Regions from separate parts of the Homo sapiens genome. Here all the other regions are linked to region 3. Evidence: fine-mapped expression QTL. A gene starts in region 3. Each other region holds a variant in brackets. All regions are shown on one strand. Distances are between the middles of the regions. Region 1 overlaps LOC105374426 (a long non-coding RNA gene). Region 2 overlaps PHOX2B-AS1 (PHOX2B antisense RNA 1). Region 3 holds the start of DCAF4L1 (DDB1 and CUL4 associated factor 4 like 1).

Evidence for each region. PIP is the estimated chance that this variant, and not a neighbour inherited with it, causes the effect.
Region 1: its variant is fine-mapped to the expression of DCAF4L1 in whole blood (TOPMed, PIP above 0.99).
Region 2: its variant is fine-mapped to the expression of DCAF4L1 in monocytes after triphosphate RNA (Kim-Hellmuth 2017, PIP 0.95).

What each region holds. Positions count from the first base shown.
Region 1 is chr4:41,920,473-41,928,218 of GRCh38, forward strand. All of the region lies in intron 2 of LOC105374426 (a long non-coding RNA gene), which reads right to left. Among named protein-coding and RNA genes, the nearest start is that of TMEM33, 11 kb to the right of the region's middle. The variant G/A (reference allele first, on the strand shown) is at 4,213.
Region 2 is chr4:41,795,138-41,802,883 of GRCh38, forward strand. It overlaps PHOX2B-AS1 (PHOX2B antisense RNA 1), which reads left to right. Exons shown (of 4, transcript NR_187403.1): 3 at 1-77; 4 at 593-1,300. Among named protein-coding and RNA genes, the nearest start is that of PHOX2B, 50 kb to the left of the region's middle. RefSeq lists a silencer at 1,395-1,689. The variant G/A (reference allele first, on the strand shown) is at 3,605.
Region 3 is chr4:41,977,539-41,985,284 of GRCh38, forward strand. DCAF4L1 (DDB1 and CUL4 associated factor 4 like 1) reads left to right here and starts at 4,218. Exons shown (of 1, transcript NM_001029955.4): 1 at 4,218-7,746. The coding sequence starts at 4,255. The coding sequence ends at 5,445. RefSeq lists enhancers at 3,949-5,148, 4,708-5,480.

The DNA.
Region 1 (7,746 bases), 57 kb before region 3:
TTATCTTGAATTGTAGTTCCTATAATCCTCACATGTTGTGGGAGGGACCTGGTGGGAGGTAATTGAATCATTGAGGCAGTTACCCCCATGCTGCTCTTCTCATGACAGTGAGTTCTCATGAGATCTGATGGTTTTATAAGGGGGTTTCCTCCTCTTTGCTCTGCACTTCTCCTTGTTGCTGCCATGTGAAGAAGGATGTGTTTGCTTCCCCTTCTGCCATGATCGTAAGTTTCCTGAGGCCTCCACAGCCCTGCGGAAGTGTGAGTCAATTAAACCTCTTTCTTTTATAAATTACCCAGTCTTGGTGCCCTGTGTCCCAACAGCTCTAGCCATGGCTGAAAGGGGCCAAGGTACAGCTTGGGCTGTGGCTTCAGAGTGTGCAAGCCCCAAGCCTTGGCAGCTTCCATGTGATGTTGAGCCTGTGGGTGCACAGAAGTCAAAAATTGAGGTTTGGGAACCTCTGCCTACATTTCAGAGGATGCATGGAAATGCCTGGATGTCCAGGCTGACGTTTGCTACAGGGGTGGAGCCCTCATGGAGAACCTCTGCTAGGGCAGTGTGGAAGGGAAATGTGGGGTTAGAGTCCCCACACAGAGTCTCCACTGGGGCACTGCCTAGTGGAGCTGTGAGAAGAGGCCCACTATCCTCCAGATCCCGGCATGGTAGATTCACCAGCAGCTTGCAACTTCCACCTGGAAAAGCTGCAGACACTCAATGCCAGACTATGATGGAAGCTGGGAGGGGTCTGTACCCTGCAGATCCACAGGGATGGAGCTGCCCAAACTGTGGGTGCCCACCTCTTGCATCAGCATAACCTGGATGTGAGACATGAAGTCAAAGGAGATCATTTCAGAGCTTTAAGATTTGACTGTCCCACTGGATTTTTGGATTTGCTTGGGGCCTATAGCACCCTCATTTTGGCCAATTTCTGTATGGAATCAGTCAGGGTGGTGGGAGAAATTATAAAGATAAAGTTATAGGAAATAGACACAAACCTTCTTGGAATGCTGGGAGTTTTGCATAGCTTCAGTAAAAGATTTGACTGAAGGCAGCTGAATTCTCTTAAAAGCTTACATAGGAATGTAGAGGAGTTTATCTAAATAGCTTGTTTACTCATGTGGTCCTAAGACTATCCTTTGATCATCTGTGGTGCATAACTGCTCTCTACTTGGGAGGTCGGCAATGTTAATTACCCTCTAGTGGTGTTTACTCAAGACCTTTGTCATTTAATCTGTACTAAATAAATGCGAACTTCTCTGGCTAATTGAGGCCATGGCTGCTGACTCTTCACAGCACCCTCCTCAGGGTCTGTGAGTGGCCCCGTCCCCTAGCCCGCTCCTTCATTGGATATCTGTGTCTGAGTGCATTTGTTCATCAGTCACTGGGTCAGGGTCTGTGGGTAGGACTCGGCACTCCCATTTGGAACAAGCATATTTACCCAATGCCTATAGCTCCATTGTATCTAGGAAGTAACTAACTTGCTTTTGATTTTACAGGGTCATAGGTGGAAGGGACTTGCCTTGTCGCAGATGAGACTTTGGACTTGGACTTTTGGGTTAATGCTGGAATGAGTTAAGACTTTGGGGGACTGTTGGGAAGGCATGATTGTGTTTTAAAATGTGAGAACATGAGATTTAGGAGAGGCCAGAGTTGGAATGATATGGTTTGGCTGTGTTCCCATCCAAATCTCATCTTGAATTGTAGTTCCCATAATCCTTATATGTCATGGGAGTGACCTGGTGGGTGGTAATTGAATCATGGGGGCAGTTAGCCCCATGCTGCTGTTCTTATGGTATTGAGTTCTCATTAGATCCGATGGTTTTATAACATGCTTTCCCCCATTTTGCTTGGCATTTCTCCTTCTTGCCATCATGTGAAGAAGGACGTGCTTGCTCCCCCTTCTGCCATGATTGCAAGTTTCCTGAGGCCTCCCCAGCCCTATGGAACTGTGGGTCAATAAAATGTCTCTCCTTTATAAATTACCCAGTCTTGGGAAGTTCTTTATAGCAGTGTGAGAATGGACTAATATAGCAGGGGTCCCCACCCTCCAGCCCACAGACCAGTACTAACCTGTTAGGAACTGGGCCTCATAGCAGGAGGTGAGTGCTGGGGGAGCAAGCATTACCACCTGAGCTCCACCTCCTATCAGATCAGCAGTGGCAATAGATTCCCATAGGAGCTCGAACCGTATTACGGACTGCACATTCAAGGGATCTAGGTTGCATGCTCTTTATGAGACTCTAATGCCTGATAATCTCAGGTGGAACAGTTTCATCCCAAAACCATTCCCTACTCCCGTCTGTGGAAAAATTGTCTTCTATGAAACCAATCCCTGATACCAAAAAGTTGGCGACCACTGTTCTAGAGAACTAACTTAAAATCTTCATAAATAGTTTACTTAATCTCTTCTTTCCTTTTGTTTTCTTTTAAAATGTATTTGTTGAGGACCTCTATTCCATATGGCACTATGCAGGAGATATCATGGAGAAAAAAGTGGTAGCAGTATAGACAGTGATTAAACACAGACTCTGGATTTCAATGCCACTTTTATCCCCCTGTTATCTATGGGTGCATTATTTAACCCCTCTGCATCTCAATTTCCACATATATAAAATGGGCACAATAATACTACCCATCTCATAGGGTTTGTGCTGAATATCTTCTGTTTGCCTCTCCAGATTCATTCTCCACACTTCTCCATCCTGTTCTTGACCCTGGGAATTTGACCTGCTTGGGCTGCTTCAATGAATTTACTTGCTCTCTGGCTTCAATTTGGATTTGGCCATTGGGGATCCCTGGTAGGAGATCAGAGGGAGGTAGGAATAAAGAGGTTGGGTTTTTGTTGTTGTTGTTTTTAGAGACAAGTCTCCCTGTATTCCTCAGGCTGGAGTGCAGTAGCTTTTCACAAAGGCAATCATAGTGTACTATAGCCTCAAACTCCTGGGCTCAAGTGGTCCTCCTTGTTCAGCCTTGCGAGTAGCTGGGACTATAGGTGCAGCCAGTTTTGAGGTTGAGTTTTTTACCCCAGCTTCCTCCTTGTAGGGATGCTGCAGGAATGGCTGCCTTCCCGACCAGAGGTTACAACTGCTGCCACTGCAGCACTCTCTACATGACTTCCTTTTTCTGAGTTTCCATGAACATCCCCTCCCTTTACAACATGTGTTTCTAACACAAAGCTGCCTGTAAAATTGAGCTGCAGACATAAATAAGCAAGCTGGAAGCTTGCATGGGTGAATGTTAGCAGCTGTTCCAATAGGAGAAGCCTACCAGGGGGCTAGGCATGTTCAACATGGCGGCTCCATCTTCCCTTTTCCTTGCCAACCACATGAACAGTAAGGAGCAGACAATGCGGAGCTGGTAAAGTAGAGAAGCCACTTGCATAATAGAAGACTAGGGTGGGATGGCCAGCTTCCTCTTGAACTATGTAAATGTCTCACCTGGTCCAACCATTCTTTGGGCCCTGTGTAGATCAGATAGCTCCTCCCCAAGCCAGTCTTTAAAACCCCTGTGCACTTCATCATGGGACCAGAAGACCCACTTGGGTGCCCCTCTCTCTCTGCAGAAAAGAAAGCTATTTTCTTTTCTCCTTCTTTCACCTATTAAACCTCCACTCTTAAACTGACTCCTGTGTATCTATGTCCTTGATTTCCTTGGCATGAGGCAACGAACCTCGGATGCTACCCCAGACAATGACGCCACTTCACTGTGATGTCTGGCTTAAACTGGAGCTGGAGCAGCAGGGCTCCATCCACACCAAAGGCTGCATGGGTCAGTTTGAGAAACGGCTGCTGGACAACCTGATCGTCATTACCTAGGTCTTTGTGAGTATCACCTTCCTTCAGATCTTTGGCATCTTTCTGGCCTGGAACCTCCTGAGTGACATCAAAGCAGTGAAAGGCAACTGGTGAGTCTGCCATGGGCCATTGCCACATGTCCAGCTAATTGAGGCCTCTAGTGGGCACCCCCCTCCCCCATGGAGGACCTTCTCCTACTGTGTTGGTGATGGGCAAGGCTGCAGGAGGTATTTCTGCTTGGATCTGAGTCCTAAGTGGGGTTTGTATGTACAGGTGCACTGTCCACCCACAGAGAAAGCCACTGTGGCTCTGCTGGGGCTGCTTTTCCTGGAGCTGTGGGCAAGGAAGGTGTGCATGTCTACACACACACATGTACATGCATGCACAGGAGAGCCACCATCTCGGCTATTGTTAGGAC[G/A]GCAGGCTCGCCAGAGGACTAGAAAAGGCATAGCTACAAGCGTACAGGCGGTCGGGCAAGGTGGCTCATGCCTGTAATCCCAGCACTTTGGGAGGCCGAGGCAGGTGGGTCACGAGGTCAGGAGTTTGAGACCAGCCTGGCCAAGATGGTGAAATCCCATCTCTACTAAAAAAAAATACAAAAATTAGTCAGGCATGGTGGTGGACACCTGTAAGCCCAGCTACTCAGGAGGCTGAGGCAGGAGAATCTCTTGAACCCTGGAGGCAGGGGTTTCAATGAGCCGAGATCGTGCCACTGCACTCCAGCCTGGGTGACAGAACAAGACTGTCTCAAAAAAAAAAAAAAAAAAAGAAAGAGGGTACAGGCCAGGTGGGGTGGGAGGCACTGTTGTGGAGGCATCTGTCTGTGTCTCCCCTTCCCCCACTCCATGCTGAGACACACTTCTCTGTGCATGGCTGGATGGGGCATGCTTTGGGGCCTGCTGTTGCCTGGGCCACTGCTTCCTGCAGCTTCAAAACTGTCATCTTTATTAGCTATACCTTGAGCCTGCCAGGAGTCCACCTCCACCTCAGTGTATTAGACTCTGTAATTAGCCCAAGAATTTTTTCCCTCTCTCTCAGCATGCCTCTCAGGAGCAAACATGATAATGGCTAGAAACTACTCAAATAAACGAAACTTTGAAAACCAGGGAAAAAAGTAGATTGTAAAATTTCTCCAGGACCCAGTTAGATAAATGAAAAGGTGATTTTAAACAATTCCCTTGAATTGATTATGGTGCAAAGTTGAGTTTCAAGTGTCAGGGAGAAGCAATCTGATCTCCAACTTTCAACCACTAGCCATTACAGTCCCAGTGAGGTCCATCTCCTGTGCCTGTTGAAATTTATAAGAAGATGGAAGAGAGTGGGGGATAGACTCACTTTCTGAAGCTCTAGAATATATTTCTAGTAAACATATATTTTTTCTATGTCTAGTAGCTAAGTCTCTGATACATTTTCAAAAAAGGTAAAATTTGACAATATAATTATGTAATCTTTATAAAGTAATTATTTTATTTTATCTATAGAATAAATACATGTCAAAGATTTTGTGTAGCTCATTAATTAATGAGGGGACTGGGAAGGCTGTTAACACTGATTCAATGGAGAAGTCAAGATTACAAGTTTTTTCCTTTTTTTTTTTTTAAGAGAGAGAGTCTTGCTCTCTTGCCCAGGCTGGAATGCGGTGGCACAATCATAGCTCACTACAGCCTTGAACTCCTGAGTTCAAGCAAACCTAGTTAGGACTACAGGCTTGCACCACCATGCTTGGCTAGTTAAAAAAAAATTTTTTTTTTTTTTTTAAGAGACAGGAGTCTCATTAGGTTGCTCAGACCGGTCTTAAACTACTGGCCTCAAATGATCCTCCTGCCTCAGCCTCTCAAAGTGCAGGGATTACAGTAGTGAGCCACCACACCCCATTCAAAGACTACAAATTTATATAGAATAAAGGAATATTGAAATGAACTTACAAATAGAAACAAAACTGGATTTTTATATAGGAGTAGATAGGCAGAAAAGTCAATTCAGTCTCCATTTGGCAGAATTTATTTGCATGTCTATAGATGTGGTAGGCAGAATAATACCACCCTTCCCTGCCTCTCATCCCAAGAAGTCCACATCCTAATCCTCAGAACCTGTGAATTTCTTAAATTACATGACAAAGGGGAATTAAGGTTACAGATGGAATTAAGATTACTAATCATCTGACCTTATAGGGAGAGTACCCTGGGCTAGCCAAGTGGGTCCAAAATAATCACAAGTCTTTAAAAGTGGAAAAGGCTGGGCCAGGCATGGTGGCTCACCCAGCGCTATGGGAGGCTGAGGCGAGCGGATCACCTAAGGTCAGGAGTTTGAGACCAGCATGGCCAACATGGTGAAACCCCATCTCTACTAAAAATGCAAAAAAAAAAAAAAAAAAAAATTAGTTAGGCATGGTGGCACACGCCTGTATTCCCAGCTACTCAGGAAGCTGAGGCAGGAGAATCACTTGAACCTAGGATGTGGAGGTTGCAGTGAGTGGAGATCATGCCACTGCACTCCAGCCTGGGAGACAGAGTGAGACTCTGTCTTAAAAAAAAAAAAAATGGGGAAGAGGATGGCAGAAGAGAGTCAGAGGGGGTTGTGCCTATAGAGAAATGTTCAGAAAGATGAAACATTGCTGGCTTTGAAAACGGAGAAAGGAGTCCAGTAATCAAAGGTGAGCTCTAAAGTTGGAAAAGGGAAGAAAATTAATTCTCCACTGGAGCCTCTAGAAAGGAGTGGAGCCCTGCAGACCTTGATTTTATCCCAGGGAGACCTGTGTGGGACTTCTGACCTTCAGAACTATAAGATAATAAACTTGTGTTATTTTAAGTCATGAAACTTGTCATAATTTGTCACATCATCAATAGAGAGGTAATAGATAAGAAGTAGTTGCATTGCTATCATTTATTTACAATTTAAAGAGTTTAAAACATAGCCTAGTCAGAGACAAAGATACACTGATACAGCATCAGATAATACCCAGTCTTCAGCATTCCACTGAACGTGCACCTATTCTAAAGTCTTATAGTTTTTCTTACATTACCAATTTTTAAAGGTAACAATAATTTTCATTTCTTAGTTAAGACCTCATGCTCAAGCTATAACTGCAGAGCTTATGGAGCTTACTTTTCAGGCAGCAAATAAAAGTAGGAATGTATTACTAATGAAATGAATGACTTAGCACTTAGCAATTGCAAAGATACCCTATCCAACTACAGAATTATTAATCACTGATGGAAGCAGAAATGAGCAAATTGATGACTTGATGGTTCAGTAGAATCCCCCTTGAAAACAGGGGGGAGAGCCAAGTCATCAATAACTCTGGAATCAATTCTTGTTTCATCAGCCAATTTCTAGCCAAATGGAATAATGGCCTCTTGGTAGTCAATTGCTTCAGCTTCGGGGTTTGTGTTACATTTGGATTTTCTTACCTTCAATTAAAATAAGTTAGATAACACTTAGGAATTCACCCTGACCCTATGGAGGGAGTGTAGCAGAATAATTTTTTTTTTTTTTTTTTTTTTTTTTGCTGTACCTGGCGTCCATACATTGTTCTTATTATAGCAACACACAGAGTGTCAAATGAGGTTCATCCAGTTGCCAGCTGCGAATCTCTATCCGTATAGGTTTGCAGCAACCTCAATTCTTGCCACCTCAGAAGAAAGAATTCAACCGAGAGGCAAATAGCAGAAAGGAATGAAAGGAAGTAAAGTATACTTGGAGGAGGGCCAAGTGGGCAACTTGAGAGATCAAGTGCATGGTTTGACCTTTTCACCTGGGGCTTAGCATGTTGGCACACTTCTGGGATGTTGCATTACTCCTCCCCTGATTCTTCCCCTGGGGTGGGCTGTCTTGCTTGAGCCTACTCGCCCAACTCCTGAGATCTTATCAGGAAGCTGCTGATCACCAGTTTCAGGTATTTTCTATCTACTAGGAGACTGCCCTTCCCTGGTGCTTACTGTAACTAATTATT
Region 2 (7,746 bases), 180 kb before region 3:
CGAGCTCCCCCACCCATCAGATGTCACAAAGAGTCCTCTTACTCTTGGATAATTTCAAATCAAACTGACCTCCCCAGGTAAGCCCCTTGTCACTTTCAGAAGAATCCCTTTTAATGTGTGCTCCACTAAGATTTTAAACTCAGAAACTCAAGACTTTATTAAGTTGCTACACTTTCAAGCTCAGTAGGACATTTTGACTTGGAAGGGAAATTACTTGGTAAAATGACGAGCTATTCATTTGCCTCGGAATAGGAGGTTTCAGAGAATGTAGAATTTTCAGTTTTAAAACTGAGACAGTCTCAGCATAACTGGGTTGGTTGATCACCCTATTCTAACATCATTTATGACACCCAATTGGCCTAATGAAATTGGCACACAAAAACTAACTTGTGAAGGCAAACAACTTTCATAGAAATAATTTACTGAAACTGCAAGGGAATTCTCTGAGCCCTCACATTCGAGAGGCACAGAATCGAACAGATCATCCAAGCAGATTTCTTTAAATTGGTTGGAAGTGCACAGCTCTTGTTTCGGCATCAATAGATGTGTTCAGTTTCAACTAAGCAATTCACTAACTGCATTGATTTTTAAGGCCAAGCTGAAGGTATTGAGAAAATATCCAGATGACACAGAAACTGGAATGCTCAGAGACTGATGAACAAAGGGAGAATTTTGCTCCTGTTGCTTATTCCTGGGACACCTCTAGCTGGGAATACATATCCCAGGGCTGTTAGTAGTTTTAACCTTTCTTTGGCCACTTGATGGTCGAACCATTCTAGTACATCCCTGTGCCTAAGGGCTCTCAGAATACTCTGGGAATACAAGTTCGTGCTCAAGGTCCAACAGCTGTCAGAGCAGATGGCTGGGGATTTGTTTACTGTGGTCCTAAGTATTACCCTTTAGCTCTAAGGCACTGGGAACAATTTGACAAATTTGATTAACTGAGAACAATATGATGCTTGCCTGGAAAGCTCACTCCACACTTTCACAGAGTTCCTTATGTTCTTTTCATGGTCTGAGGATACAGGATGATATTAGCTACCACCTCAGTCCAATGAAACTATCAGAGAAAACAAAAAAGTCACCCTTGGCTACCCCTTTTGTTTTACAACTGAATGTTTGTGGTTCACATGTACAGCCAGCTGTTCTATCAGAGATGCTCAGAGCATACCTAGTCCTGCCTTTAAGAAAAAGAAATGTGACTTCATGTTCCATGGCACTCTATAGCTTATTTGTCAATTACAATCTGTGTCTGCTTTGTGAAACTAAAAATAAATAGTTAATCTGCTGGAAAATCTTATTCTACCTTCCCAACTTGCCTCTGTTTTTCGTCCTCTCAACTTCCAGTAGTTTCTTTGGTGAACATCTCACGGACGGCTTGCAAAGCATTTTGTGCTTTGAGATGGCGTGTATATCCCTGGGTCTGTGAAAGGCCACTGCTGCAGGGTGGGGAGACAATAGTCAGCTCTGGGAAGTCTGTGGGAATTCCTGAGGGAGCTGCAAGTTACTATGAATAGCCCGGCATTCGAAGAAGATTTGCAGAGGAGTCTCCTGCTGTGCCCTCTAGCTCTCTACTTGATGGAGACAAACCCAGGGCCTGAGAGGTTGGGAAGGGCTCAGGGAGGACGCCCATTAGGGGACAGGCTTTCTTGTGTCCAGATTCCACTTGGGTGACCCTGGGAAGAGAGACTGCTGGCTCTTTTCCGGAGCCACAATGCTCCATTTACAAGCTGCAATTAGTCGCAAGCAAAATTTGTGCATCCACTACTAACTGTCAGCTCAAGAGGTTGAAAGTTCAGTCCTGGGGAGGTCAGGACGTCTTCCAAGGGACGGATGACTTTGCTTACAACCTCCCCTCCCCCAGTACAGTGGGGACCCTTCTGTAGGGGAGAGAACCACATTCCATAGAGGGATGCCTGCAAAACTGAATGATCTATGCCAGACAGGCTCATGGTTCTGGGACTAGGCATAGTAGGCAGATGTACCCGTTATACAGTGACTTTTCTACAGCAGAATATTGACTTAATTTATAATAAATATAGCCATTTGAGAAGAGCAAGGCAAGTAATGCTGTAGTGCTGTTAGGATTTAGCTGCTATTTCAAAGTTCAGCCAGTTTTGCTTGCATATTCCATGTGGAATAAAAAAGCCAGAAAGTCCCAGAAAAAAAATGAACTGTTCTTTGCCAAATCAAAATGTGTAAATAGTTCTTCTGAGAGCATAACAAAGGGTCTATTTTGCTTTTAGACACCAGAGCCAGAAACAGGAAAAGGCTACAATTAACTAACTGAAGCACAATGTGAAGTTAATCAATAATGGAACGATTATGACGAAGATGCCATACATTAACTCTACCTAGACATGAGTGCTGCTTTCAGAGCATGAACATTCTTTCAAATTCCAGATACCACTTTTTCCCTTGTGAGGCTGCATTTTAATTTTCCACTGTCTCCTCTATTCTCATTTGCAATCCTCTGAATCTCACTGTAAACTGTGACTAGATTCCTCCTCCCCCATTTGTGGTGTGTGATGTTGGAATCCCTGCGTTGCTCTTCTGAGAAACAGAGAAGACTTCCATTTGGAGACTGAGCTGACAAGGATTGAATTCTTTATTTATTTTATTTTATTTATTTATTTTTTGAGATGGAGTCTCACTGTCACCCAGGCTGGAGTGCAGTGGCAATCTCTGCTCACTGCAACCTCCGCCTCCCGGGTTCAAGCAATTCTCCTGCCTCAGCCTCCTGAGTAGCTGGGACTACAGGCACATGCCGCCACACCCGGCTAATTTTTTGTATTTTAGTAGAGATGGGGTTTCACTGTGCTGCCCAGACTGGTTGCAAACTCCTGAGGTCAGGCAATCCGCCTGCCTCGACCTCCCAAAGTGCTGGGATTACAGGTGTGAGACACGGTGCCCGGCCCTTTATTTCTTTAATGGGCACACAGCAGCCACTCATTATATGATGTTGACTCCCTTAGATGAAAGTAAAATTAATCATGACATTTACATTGAGTAAAGCCTTCCAGACCTTCCCAAGTTTCTACTCAGGACACCAAACACCAAGAATGGGTCTAACCCAGAGAAAGGTCTTGAAGCTGGGCATGGTGGTGCATACCTGTAGTCCCAGTTACTGGGGAGGCTGAGGCAAGTGGACACTTGAGTCCAGAGAGGTCGAGACTACAATGAGTATGATTGTGTCACTGCACTCCAGCCTGGGCAATAGTGCAAGATCCTGTCTTCAAAAAAGGAAAAGAAAACAAACAAAAAAAAGTCTTGTAAATTTTCAATCAATACCAAAGCTGACTGCTTACCCCAGCAAGCCCATCAGTAGAAGACAAAAGATGGGCCAGGTGGGAGGCAGACTGGGCTGGCTGCTCCATCCCTGCCCCCCTTGCAGGAACTACACAGCATGAAGACAGGTGGCACGGTTTGAGACTTCTCTCCCAGGCTCCCATTTGGACCAAACTCAGATTTCCAAATGCAAGGCCTTCCATGACAGTGGATATCATGTGACAAAACCAGATACATAGCCTCCCCCGCCACAGTAGAACCTCTGCTTCTTCCGCTCCCCTTCCCCCTTGAAATCACTGAAAGCCAGGCGATGTAC[G/A]TGGCTCCCCCTCAGAGGGAGTTGCTCGGGTCTCTCTTCTAGACAGTGCTCTAAGAAACAGTCTTTCCCCTCACCCTTCCTATCACCACCCTCCCCTACCACACCCCTGCAACACCTCACCCAGAGTTAGCCACAAAAATAACTGTTCCATGGTGGGCAGAGTATGATGCCGGGTGATGAATTAACAAGAAACCTCCCATCACCTGGTGGGCAATTTTTTTCTAATTAAGTTAATTGGATTTTTTTATATTATAAAAGGAGTGCATGTTCATTATTAAAAATTTGTAAAATACAAAAAAAAAGTAGAAATTTGAGGGAAAAAAGTAAAGCCTACAGGTGGGTAATTACAGCCCCAGAATTATTAGTCATTTTGACTGGGAACCTGGTAATCCATAAATTAGGTTTTTAGAGTCAACTCCAGTTCCACTTTCTAGTTCAACTACTTGTGTCTTCCCTAAGTCAATGCTGCAGTTATTTATCACAGTTTTCTTGGAGAAGGCAAAATCCTTTCTGTCTGAATTTCAGCCCCACTTAAAATTTTAATGCAAAACTGCGTTCCTCAGAGTTACTGGAGACATAAATTCCTGGCACCCTTCCATTCCAGCCCCAGGGTTTCTCTCCCTCTAGGACTTCTCCAAGCCAGCTCCCTTGTCATCAGCTCTCATGGGAGGAGTAGAATTCTTATTTTTTCCCCCCACAATAGAACTTTTAAAAATTTCTCTGAAATATGCTGTTTGTATAGTCACATGTCTGAGTTTCTAGCAATTAATCTCTTTATTTCTGTCTCGGCAAAGCATGAATGTTTCTGCAAAAGAATGAAAGCAAAATACTGAAGCAAATATCAGGCGAGATTTTGGCTCATGCACAGAAAGTCAAATATCCATCGACCTCAGTTACCTGCAGCTCAGCGAGGAAGCCACTGATGATCAGCAAAATTCCTAAGCAGCAAAAGCAGCAGCACAAAAATTAAGATTCCATCAGCCACGCACTCTCTCACTTTGTCACTCTTCTTTGAACCCCATTCAAAAAAAAAATAATAAGCATTCTCAGTTCTCTTAGCCCTAAGGAACAGATTGCAATGTGACAATGGATTCTGGTGGGAATGATGAAGGAAATAGAAAACTTTCAAAGGTGGACACAGGAATTCAAAATATGTATGTGAGCCAGACGTGGTAGCTCGTCTTGTAATCCCAACATGTTGGGAGGCCAAGTGGGAGGATTAGAGTTTGAGATCAGGAGTTTAAGACCAGCCTGGGCAACATGGCAAAACCCTATCTCTACAAAACAAAAAATTAGCTGGGTGTGGTGGTGTGTGCCTGTAGTCCCAGCTACTCGGGAGGCTTAGGTGGAAGGATCGCTTGAACTTGGGAGATGGAGGTTGCAATGAGCCAAGATGGCACCATTGTACTCCAGCCTGGGCCTGACCCTGTCTCAAAACAACAGAAAATCAAGTGGCTTAGCTGGGTGATCCTGGCTCAAGGTCTCTTATGAGGTTGAAGTCAAGATGTTTTCTGAAGGACAATATGCTATGTGAAATAAACTAGTTACAAGCAGACAAATACTAGGCGATTCCACTTACATGAGGTACCTAGAGTAGTCAAAACCATAGAGACAGAAAGTAGAATGCTGGTTGCCAGGGACAGAGGGAAAGAGATAATGGGGAGTTATTGTTCAATGGGCATAGAGTTTCAGTATTACTAGAAGAGAGGAGTCCTGGTGATGAATGGTGATGATGGCCGCACTACACGACGAATGTATCCAATACCACTAAACCATATACTTTAAAATGGTCAAGACGGTACATTTTATGTTATGTGTACTTGCCCACAATTTTTAAAATGAGGAAAAGAAAGAGATGTCATCTGAAAGCTTGACTGAAAGATCAACTTCCAAAATGGTTCATTGACGTGGCTGTTCACCATCAATGAAGACCTCAGTTTCTCTCTGGCTATTGGCAGGAGGCTCCAGTTCCTAAGCAGGTGGGCTCTCCCTTGGCTGCTTGAATGTCCTCATGACATGGCAGCTGGCTTTCCTTAGAGCAAGAGAGCTAAGAGGGAGAGAGCCAGGAGGAGGCTGTATTGCCCCTTGATTCAATCTCCAAGCTCCTGCACCATTGCTACCCCCACTTCTATTTGTGAGACGAAAGCCGCTAAGTCCAGCCCATTCTCAAGGGAAAGAGATTAGGTTAGGCTCCATCCTTTAAAGAGAGGAGCATCGAGGCACTTGTGGACATATTTTTTAAATCTACCACACTCCCATAGAATTTATTTTTCCCAATACAGAACCCAGAGTGATCATTTATGTCAACTCTCTGCTCAGTGGCTTCTCATCTGATGCAAGTATTAATAAAAGCCAAATTCTTACCATGGGCCTCAGAACCCTGCATGCTCTAGTGCCTCTGCAAACTCTCGGACCTTACCTCCTATCCTTTTCCACTCCAGCCTCTCCAGCCTCCTCATTGCTCCTGCGTTCTGCCACTTCCTCAGGACTTTTGCATTTGCTGTTCTCTGCCTGGAATGCAGATTCTCCCAGCTGTCCAAATGGCTCATTATCTCATGTCCTTTAGGTTTTCACTCAAATGCCGCCATCTCAGTGAAGTCATCCCTGACCACTCCATATTTAAAATTGAAACTCTCCCACCTTACTTGTTGATATGGTTTGACTGTGTCCCCACCCAAATCTCATCTTGAATTGCAGCTCCCATAATTCCCTCGTGTTGTGGGAGGGACCCAGTGGGAGATAATTGAATCATGGGAGCGGTTTCCCCATACTGTTCTCATGATAGTGAATATGTCTCATGAGATCTGTTTTTTTTTTTTTTTTTTTGAGACAAAGTCTTGCTCTGTCATGCAGGCTGGAGTGCAGTGGTGCCATCTCAGCTCACTGCAACCTCCGCCTCCTGGGTTCAAGCGATTCACCTACCTCAGCCTCCCAAGTAGCTGGGATTACAGGCATGTGCCACCATGTCTGGCTGATTTTTGTATTTCTAGTAGAGACAGGGTTTCACCATTTTGGTCAGGCTGGTCTCGAACTCCTGACCTCAGGTGATCCAACCTCCTTGACCTTCCAAAGTGCTGGGATTACAGGCATGAGCCACTGCACCTGGCCAATCTGATGGTTTTATAAGGGGAAACCCCTATAGCTTATCTCTCATTCACTTCGCTTGTCTGCCACCATGTGAGATGTGCCTTTTACCTGCCGCTGTGATTGTGAGAACTCCCCAGCCACTTGAAACTGTGAGTCCATTAAATCTTTTTTTCTTATAAATTACCCAGTCTTGGATATGTCTTTATCAGCAGCGTGAAAAACGGACTAATACACTTGTACTACCTAACTCCCTCCCCTACTTTCTTTTCCTCCATAGCACTAATCCTTTCTGTCATCCTATATATTTTACCTAGTTCTATTCTTTTGTGTCTATCTCTCCCTTCTAGCACACAAGCTCCATATGGGTAAGCGTATCTGTTTTGTTCACTACTCTAAACCCAGTGTTCAAAACAGTGTCTGGGGCAAAAGAGGGACTCAGTAAATATTTCCTGAATGTTGGTAGCCAGAGGTAGAAAACACCTGAAGAATCATGCTTCCAAAATGAGAGTCCACTCTGGTCCTCAGAAGTTTATCTCAATGAGATAACCAATAAGAACTAAAAGCTGTTCCTCTAATTTGGACTACGTAACCATATTTTCATGGGCAACAAGCACCTATCTGCCATCGCTGCATCTTCTGCCAGGGCAAGTTGGATCAAGTGATGCACTGATAATGCAGAAAGCAAAAAAACATGTGCCAACTAAGGTTGGGGGTGCCCAGGTTGAATTCAGCAAGACTGGCAATGAACCACATGGTAACAAGGACATCTGCCTAGTGGAGTGAAGCAGAGTGAGTCCATGTAGGTTTTATTCTGTCTGTTGGGCAAGTTTAATGTCTCTCACAGTCTTGCCATCTTGAGTGCAGGCAATAGAACCAGCCTCTGCAGTGTGATTTGCCCTCCAGCTGCCCTCCAGGGCTTAAGCCCTGGTCCTCACTGCACAGCTTCACAAGTCAGTTGATGAAAATGCTGAGACTGCAAAAGGAAGCGTTGAAAGAATAATCTGCAAGGCACTGACGCTAATAAAAAGCAACTCAGAGCCTAGGTGTGGTGGCTC
Region 3 (7,746 bases):
TGGCTAAAAAGTAAAGGCCTGGGTATTTTTAGAAAGAGCAATAATTAGTGTAAAATGTCACAGAAATATAATACGTTTAGATTCATGTCAGACAAAAGTTATTTCCAGGAAGCTTCTCAAAGACAAGAAAAGGGATGTTGGAGATATTGGGAAAAAGTATAGTGAAATTGGTAAGAATAAATAAGCTGCAGTGAAGCCTATCTGAAGCATTTGGAATATGACTTTGCAAGAGGCTCAGAATAGAATAGAGTAGGAATCTATCCCTGTTTATCTTTTTACCTCCCTATCCGTCTTGTATAGATATTGGAGTAAAAAGATGAGGAATGTTGCCTCTTGTTCCTCTCTCTGTGACTCACAACAGTGATGCTAAAGTGAGGAAGTGGCTTCAGACATGAACAGAGGTGGGGGATGGGAAAAACGGTCAGTATTAAGAGGCATGTGGCATGTGTGAAGATTTAGGAATTTAAAACACACACACACATGGTGGAAGCTGGTAAGCCTTGCCTTTTATACACAGTTCTGAATTTTAACTCTGAGGAGAGGAGTTTTTTGGGGTATAATTCTCTGTCGTAAGAGGCTGCCCTATGTGTTGTAGGATGTTTAGCAGCATCTCCAGCCTCAACCCACTCGATGCCAGTAGTATCCAGTTGTGACAGCTAAAAATGTCTCCAGATATTGCCAACAGTTGTCCCAGGATGAGAACCACTGCTGCAAAGGTCACACGATGTGGTTGGGCAGGGTGAGTATGGGACCTTGAGCTGGGGTAAGACCTGAGGGGCAGAGTTGTGAGAGTTATGGGGAACGTTTCCAATTTCTTCTATGGAGAAATGGGAAGAGATGGTGGATGAAGGAAATGGAGTGGCATGGTGGGAATGGAGTATGTAAATTCCTAAAAGAGAAGGAAAGAATCCTAAAGGCTGAAATAATTTTTTAAGACAGTAGATAAAAAGTCATGTAGCATTTAAGGAGACTTATTTTTTCTAGAAGGTTGATTTATATGTTTATTGAGAGGGAAGGAAAGTTAGTTAATCAGAAAAGAAGGGGGAGGTGGGGATGGTAAATGAGTTAAAAAAAAAAAAAAGTTAAATAATGAATAGGACTGGCCAGGCGTGGTGGCTCATGCCTGTAATCCCAGCACTTTGGGAGGCCGAGGCAGGCGGATCACAAGGTCAGGAGTTCGAGACCAGTGTGTCCAATATGGTGAAACCCCATCTCTATTAAAAATACAAAAATTAGCCTGGCATGGTAGCGGGAGCCTGTAGTCCCAGCTACTCGGGAGGCTGAGGCAGGAGAATCACTTGAACCCAGGAAGCAGAGGTTACAATGAGCCGAGATCGCACGACTGCACTCCAGCCTGAGCAACAGAGCAAGACACACACACACACAAAAAAAAACACAAAACACAAAAAACGAATAGGACCTACTATTTGATAGCACAACGGGGTGATCATGGTCAATAGTAACTTAATTGTATGTTTTAAAATAACTTAAAGAGTGTAATTGGATTGTTTGTAACTCAAAGGATAAATGGTTAAGGGAATGGATACCCCATTTACCCTGATGTGCTTATTTCACATTACATGCCTGTATCAAAACATCTCGTGTACCCCATAAATATATACACCTACTATATATCCACGGGAATTAAAAATTGAAAAAAAGAAGTGGAAATAGATTGAAAGCTCTCCCTGTAGAGTAGAAGTTGGATAGATTTTGCAGAAATAACCTTAATCCCTTATTCCTCTCAGTGAAGGAGCCTATGAAATAAAGGAGAATTAAACATGTAGTTCTTATAATTTTCATTCCTTCATTCACTTATCTATATCCTATGTCCCATGTACTATATTATACACTAGACAGTAAGGATAGAAAGATGGATAAGAAACAATCCCTGTCTAAAGATGTCCACAGTATACTAGGGTAGACAAAGATGTGTAATCAGTTTGATTGAGAATCTCACCTCAAGAGGCATAAGCTTGAAAGTCTCATCATTTCTACACTTGGTATTTTGTCAGATTTCATTGCTTCAAAGTATCAGCCTCCTTAGTTATTAAAACTTTCATTCTAGGTATTAAGATTAGGTCCTACTGATTTAAAATATTAGTCTCATATTTATTTCAAAAACTTCCTCCATGCCTTCCAGAGCAGACTAGACCCGTAGTTCCAACTTTCTTTATACACACCCCTTTTTTTCCATGTGCCTGCTCTTCCGATGGTGGGGTCAGGAGGTTTAAGAAGGAAAACAGGCAATGCCTTAAATGTCTGACTGCCGCCATGTTGCTATCTGCTTTCTGTAGGTCATTGTTAGAATATATGGGGTTCCTAACAGCCCCACTGATAACTCAGTATCAAGCAGTCCTCTATGCTTTGATAGCCCTTTGCAAGACTTCTGCATCTGTCAGCTGACTTCCATTTGGCAGTGGTGAAACACATTCTTCTGATACATAGAAATCCCTTGTCCCATGTTATGTTCCATGGCAAGTGTGTGGGCCTCAATCTCCTGTGCTCTCTGTGATCCCAGCTCTGGGGCCTGTAGATTCCGACAGGATCCATAGTCCAGATATCACCGGATTTCTCTGTAGTCCCTACCAACTCTCCCCAGTCCTCCAAAATTCCTGGAAATTCATAGCGTAAGGGGAGTCAGCAAGCTTTGTGGCAAAGGAAACATCCAGATGGGGACTGGAGATATCAGCCTCCTCTTGAAGACACCCCAAAACTTTACTAGTATCATGTAATAGGTACTAATGTCCTGAACAGAACATGAAAGACACTAACCATTAATGAAACAAATGGACAATTTGGATAAATTCATAATTTATTTACTTATTTTTCTTTCTTTTTGAGACAGGGTCTTATTCTGTCTCCCAGCTGGGCTGGAGTGCAGTGGGGTGATCACTGCAGCCTCAACTTTCAGGGCTCAGGTGATTTTCCCTCCAAGACTCCTAGGCTCAAGTGATTTTCCCTCCCAGTCTCCTGAGTAGCTGGGTCTACAGGTGTGCACCATACCCCGCTAATTTTTGTATTTTATTTATTTATTTATTTTTTGAGACAGAGTCTTGCTCTGTTGCCCAGGCTAGAATGCAGTGGCGCGATCTCGGCTCACTGCAAGCTCCGCCTCCCGGGTTCACGCCATTCTCTTGCCTCAGCCTCCAGAGTAGCTGGGTCTACAGGCGCCCGCCACGATGCCCGGCTAATTTTTTTAATTGTTGGTAGAGACGGGGTTTCACCGTGTTAGCCGGGATGGTCTCAATCTCTTGACCTCGTGATCCGCCTGCCTGCGCCTCCCAAAGTGCTGGGATTACAGGCGTGAGCCACTGCGCCCGGCCTAATCTTTGTATTTTTTTAGAGACAAAGTTTCACCATGCCGCCCAGGCTGGTCTCTAACTGTATTTTAAAAATACAGGCGGCCGGGCGCAGTGGCTCACGCTTGTAATCCCGGAACTTTAGGAGGCTGAGGCGGGCCGATCATGAGGTCAGCAGATCGAGACCATCTGGCTAACACGGTGAAACCCTGTCTCTACTAAAAATACAAAAAAAATTAGCCAGGCGTGGTGGCGGGCGCCTGTAGTCCCAGCCACTTGGGAGGCTGAGGCAGGAGAATGGCGTGAACGTGGGAGGCAGAGCTTGCAGTGAACCGAGATCGCGCCACTGTACTCCAGCCTGGCCGACAGAGCGAGACTCCGTCTTAAAATAAAAAATAAAAAAATAAGAAATACAGGCAGGGCGCGTGGGCTCATGCTTGTAATCCCAGCACTTTGGGAGGCTGAGGCGGACAGGCTGCTTGAGCTCAAGAGTTCCAGACTAGCATCGGCAAAGCAGGGAGACCCCATCTTTACAAAAAAAGTAGCCTGGCATGGTGTTGTGAGCCCATAGTCCCAGCTAAGTAGGGCAGAGGTAGGAGAATCACTTGAGCCCAGGAGTTCCAGGCTGCAGTGAGCCGTGGTCGTGCCACTGGACTCCAGCCTGGGTGAAAGAGCAAGACCCTGTCTCAAAAAGAGAAAGGAAAAAATTTAACATCAAGAACTTCCTTTCATCAAGACACCACTGAGAGAATACGACAACCCACAGAGTAGGAAAAGAGATTTGTAATACACATCTGTAACAATGGACTTCCTCCTAGAATAGAGAGGATAAAAAGTAGCAACACTTCCGCTTGCACCCGGACGGAACTTCCTGTCACGGAAAAGAACATCCTGTCACGGAGAAGAACATCCTGCAGAATTTCCTGTCACGAGGAACATTCCGCAGGAGGAAATGGAGGCTGAAAGGCTGCGACTCCTCGAGGAAGAGGCCAAGCTGAAAAAGGTAGCCAGAATGGGATTTAATGCATCTTCCATGCTCCGAAAAAGCCAGCTAGGTTTCCTCAACGTCACCAGTTACTCCCGTTTAGCCAACGAGCTGCGTGTGAGCTGCATGGAGCGGAAAAAGGTCCAAATTCGGAGCTTGGATCCCTCCTCTTTGGCGAGCGACCGATTTAACTTCATTCTGGCGAGTACCAACAGCGACCAGCTCTTCGTAGTGAACCAGGTCGAAGTCGAAGGCTCCAAGTACGGCATCATCAGCCTGCGAACTCTGAAGATCCCTTCGTTCCACGTGTACGTGCTCAGAAACCTCTACGTCCCCAACCGGAAGGTGAAGTCCCTGTGCTGGGCCTCGCTGAACCAGTTGGACTCTCACGTTCTGCTGTGCTTCGAGGGAATCACAGATGCTCCAAGCTGTGCAGTGCTGCTCCCAGCGTCGCGGTTCTTAAGTGTTCACACAAGAGTTAACCAGCCTGGCATGCTCTGCAGTTTCCAGATCCCAGAGGCCTGGTCCTGTGCGTGGTCCCTCAACACCCGGGCATATCACTGCTTTAGTGCAGGCTTGTCTCAGCAGGTCCTGTTGACCAGCGTGGCGACGGGACACCAGCAGTCATTTGATACCAGCAGTGATGTCTTGGCCCAGCAGTTTGCTAGTACGGCTCCTTTGCTGTTTAATGGCTGTCGCTCCGGGGAGATCTTTGCCATTGATCTGCGTTGTAGAAATCGAGGCAAGGGGTGGAGGGCCACTCGCCTGTTCCATGACTCAGCAGTGACCTCTGTGCAAATCCTCCAAGAAGAGCAATGCCTGATGGCATCAGACATGACTGGAAAGATCAAGCTGTGGGATCTGAGGGCCACTAAATGTGTAAGGCAGTACGAAGGTCACGTGAATGAGTCCGCCTATCTGCCCCTGCATGTGCACGAGGAAGAGGGAATCGTGGTGGCAGTGGGCCAGGACTGCTACACGAGAATCTGGAGCCTCCATGATGCCCACCTGCTCAGAACCATCCCTTCCCCGTACTCTGCCTCCGAGGACGACATTCCCAGCGTGGCCTTCGCTTCTCGGCTCGGGGGCATCCGGGGAGCAGCACCAGGGCTGCTCATGGCTGTCCGGCAGGACCTTTATTGTTTCCCCTTCAGCTAATTCTGCAGGTGGCAGCGCGGCCGAATGTGGATTTGACTTAAGGAAGTTAAGAGTATCTTATTACCGTTTCTGTGAGAGCATTTTAAGAGACGTGTTGTATATAGATCGCATCCATCCGGCTGCCAGGGGTAAGGTGTTAAGAGTTTTATGTGGAGACGTTCTTGTAAAGTTATTTCAGTTAAACTGTGGACTTAACTTGAAAGTCCTTTTCATAAAAGGTACCTGTTTCCTCTTGTTGAATGCCTTAGAACAGTTAACCACCTCCCCAACCCTTTTTTTTTTTAAATAATTAAGACTTTTCTAAGGACTGAAGATTGGCAAAAACTAAAATAAATTAAAGCAGCTTCTTTCACTAGTAGCCCTTTAGAGAAGCATAATGATGGTACTGGTAAGACTGTTTGACTAATCATACAGGGTCCCAGGCATCTGCGCTTGAGGAAGCCAGTGGGAGTGGAGACAAGGGAGAGGTAATTTCTCAGAGTCTCTACAGAAATATTTAAGGCTGGAGTTTGGAATCATTAAATTTGGCCTTCTCAAACTCAATAGCAGATCTCTTAAGGTTCTCCTTTTATTGTTATCATCCATAGGCATTGGAAGGAAAGATGGATCTTTTTAAATACTAGAAGTTTTAAACAGTCCTTGATGTGCTTTTGTTGAGGTACCTTTCAGAATGTAAGGTACAGCAGCTCCGGTTTCTATTATGGTGACTTGAAGTTCAGATTCAAGGAATTGGCTTTGACTTTTTGTAATCTAGGAGCAGCAGTTTGTGAGAGATTTATTAAAAATGTTAAAGAGCCTGTTTTTCTACTAAGCAAGGAAGAAAAAAAACGTGTAATAAGGTTAGTTGCTACTTCTTAATAGCCAAAGCCTGGAAATGATCTGAATTTCGAAAATGCTAAAATTCGTGATATAATCATACAATCGGATACTGCATAATAATAGAAAATAAGGCACACTTGCTATGTGAAACAGTATGGACCAATCTCAACATGTTGACTGAAATTAGGTAGAAATGAGTACAAACTGTATGATTCAATTCTAAAGTTCAAAAGCAGTAAAAACTTGTCTATGGTGATTAAAGGTAGAGTAGTACGTACCTCTGTAGAAAGAAAGGATTTTTTTTTCTTTTTCTTTTTAGGATGTTTGAGAAGTGACATGGGGAAGCTTTAGGAATGCTGAGTTTTCTTTATCTTGACACTTGATACATACGTAATTCATATATCTATATGCTTCACGTTTTTATAGTTTACTGTATATATGTTATTCCTCAAAAAATAAAAATAAGCAATTAGGACACTATTGTAGTTAGGCAAGGGACAATGATGCCTTGGACCTGCATGTGTGAGAAGTAGAAATGATCAGAAATGATTGCATTGGAAGATCATTCGAAGGTAGTATTATTGATAAGGCTTGCTGATGAGAGTAAACTAGAAAGTGAAAGAAAAAAGGATGGCAGCTTTTTTTTTTTTTTTTTTGAGACGGAGTCTCCTTCTGTCGCCCAGGCTGGAGTGCAGTGGCGCGATCTCGGCTCACTGCAAGCTCTGAGGATGGCAGCTTTTTTGTTAACTTTAGAACTGGTAGATGATGGTGTCGTTTACTAACCTGGGGAGGATGAGGAGAAAAAACTTTAGGTGAAGGGAATGATGCTGAGTTTTAGACATCTACTAAACCTCCAATTGGAGATACAAAGTATTCTGCAGATCAGGGGTCATGTCATGGCTGGTAATACAAATTTGGTGACTTCAATACATAGAATTAAAATAGATGGGATAGATGTGCTTTATATGACATAGATGAGGTTAATGTAATTACATATTGATAGAAGATGAGTAGATCAATAGAGAAGATATGGGAGTATGGTTAGGCACAGATTTTTGGAATCCTTTCAGTCAGTTTTTTATACTAACTTGATATGTGACATGAGAAATTGTGTAAGCTTTACTTGCTGTTGTTTCTTCAGTGTAAAATGTCTTAGATAATAAAACTAAATGATAAAGTAGATACAGGGTTAAAGGATATGTATCTTGTCCCTTTTACATTGTAAGCATTCAAAATAAAACAAAACAATTAATGAAGAAAAGACATTGCAATCATTCAGTAAGAACTAGCTGCAGACATATATATGTATATATATATATGTCTGATACTGATATGTCATTTATTTGGCAATTGACAAAAAATGACTACATAACTTGATAAACTGTTTATCCTCATTTGCAAAGAAAACAAATGCAAAAAAAAAATCAGTAAGAAAAACACACCTAAAAGAAAGGGAGGCAATAGTCTTGAATAGGAGAAAAA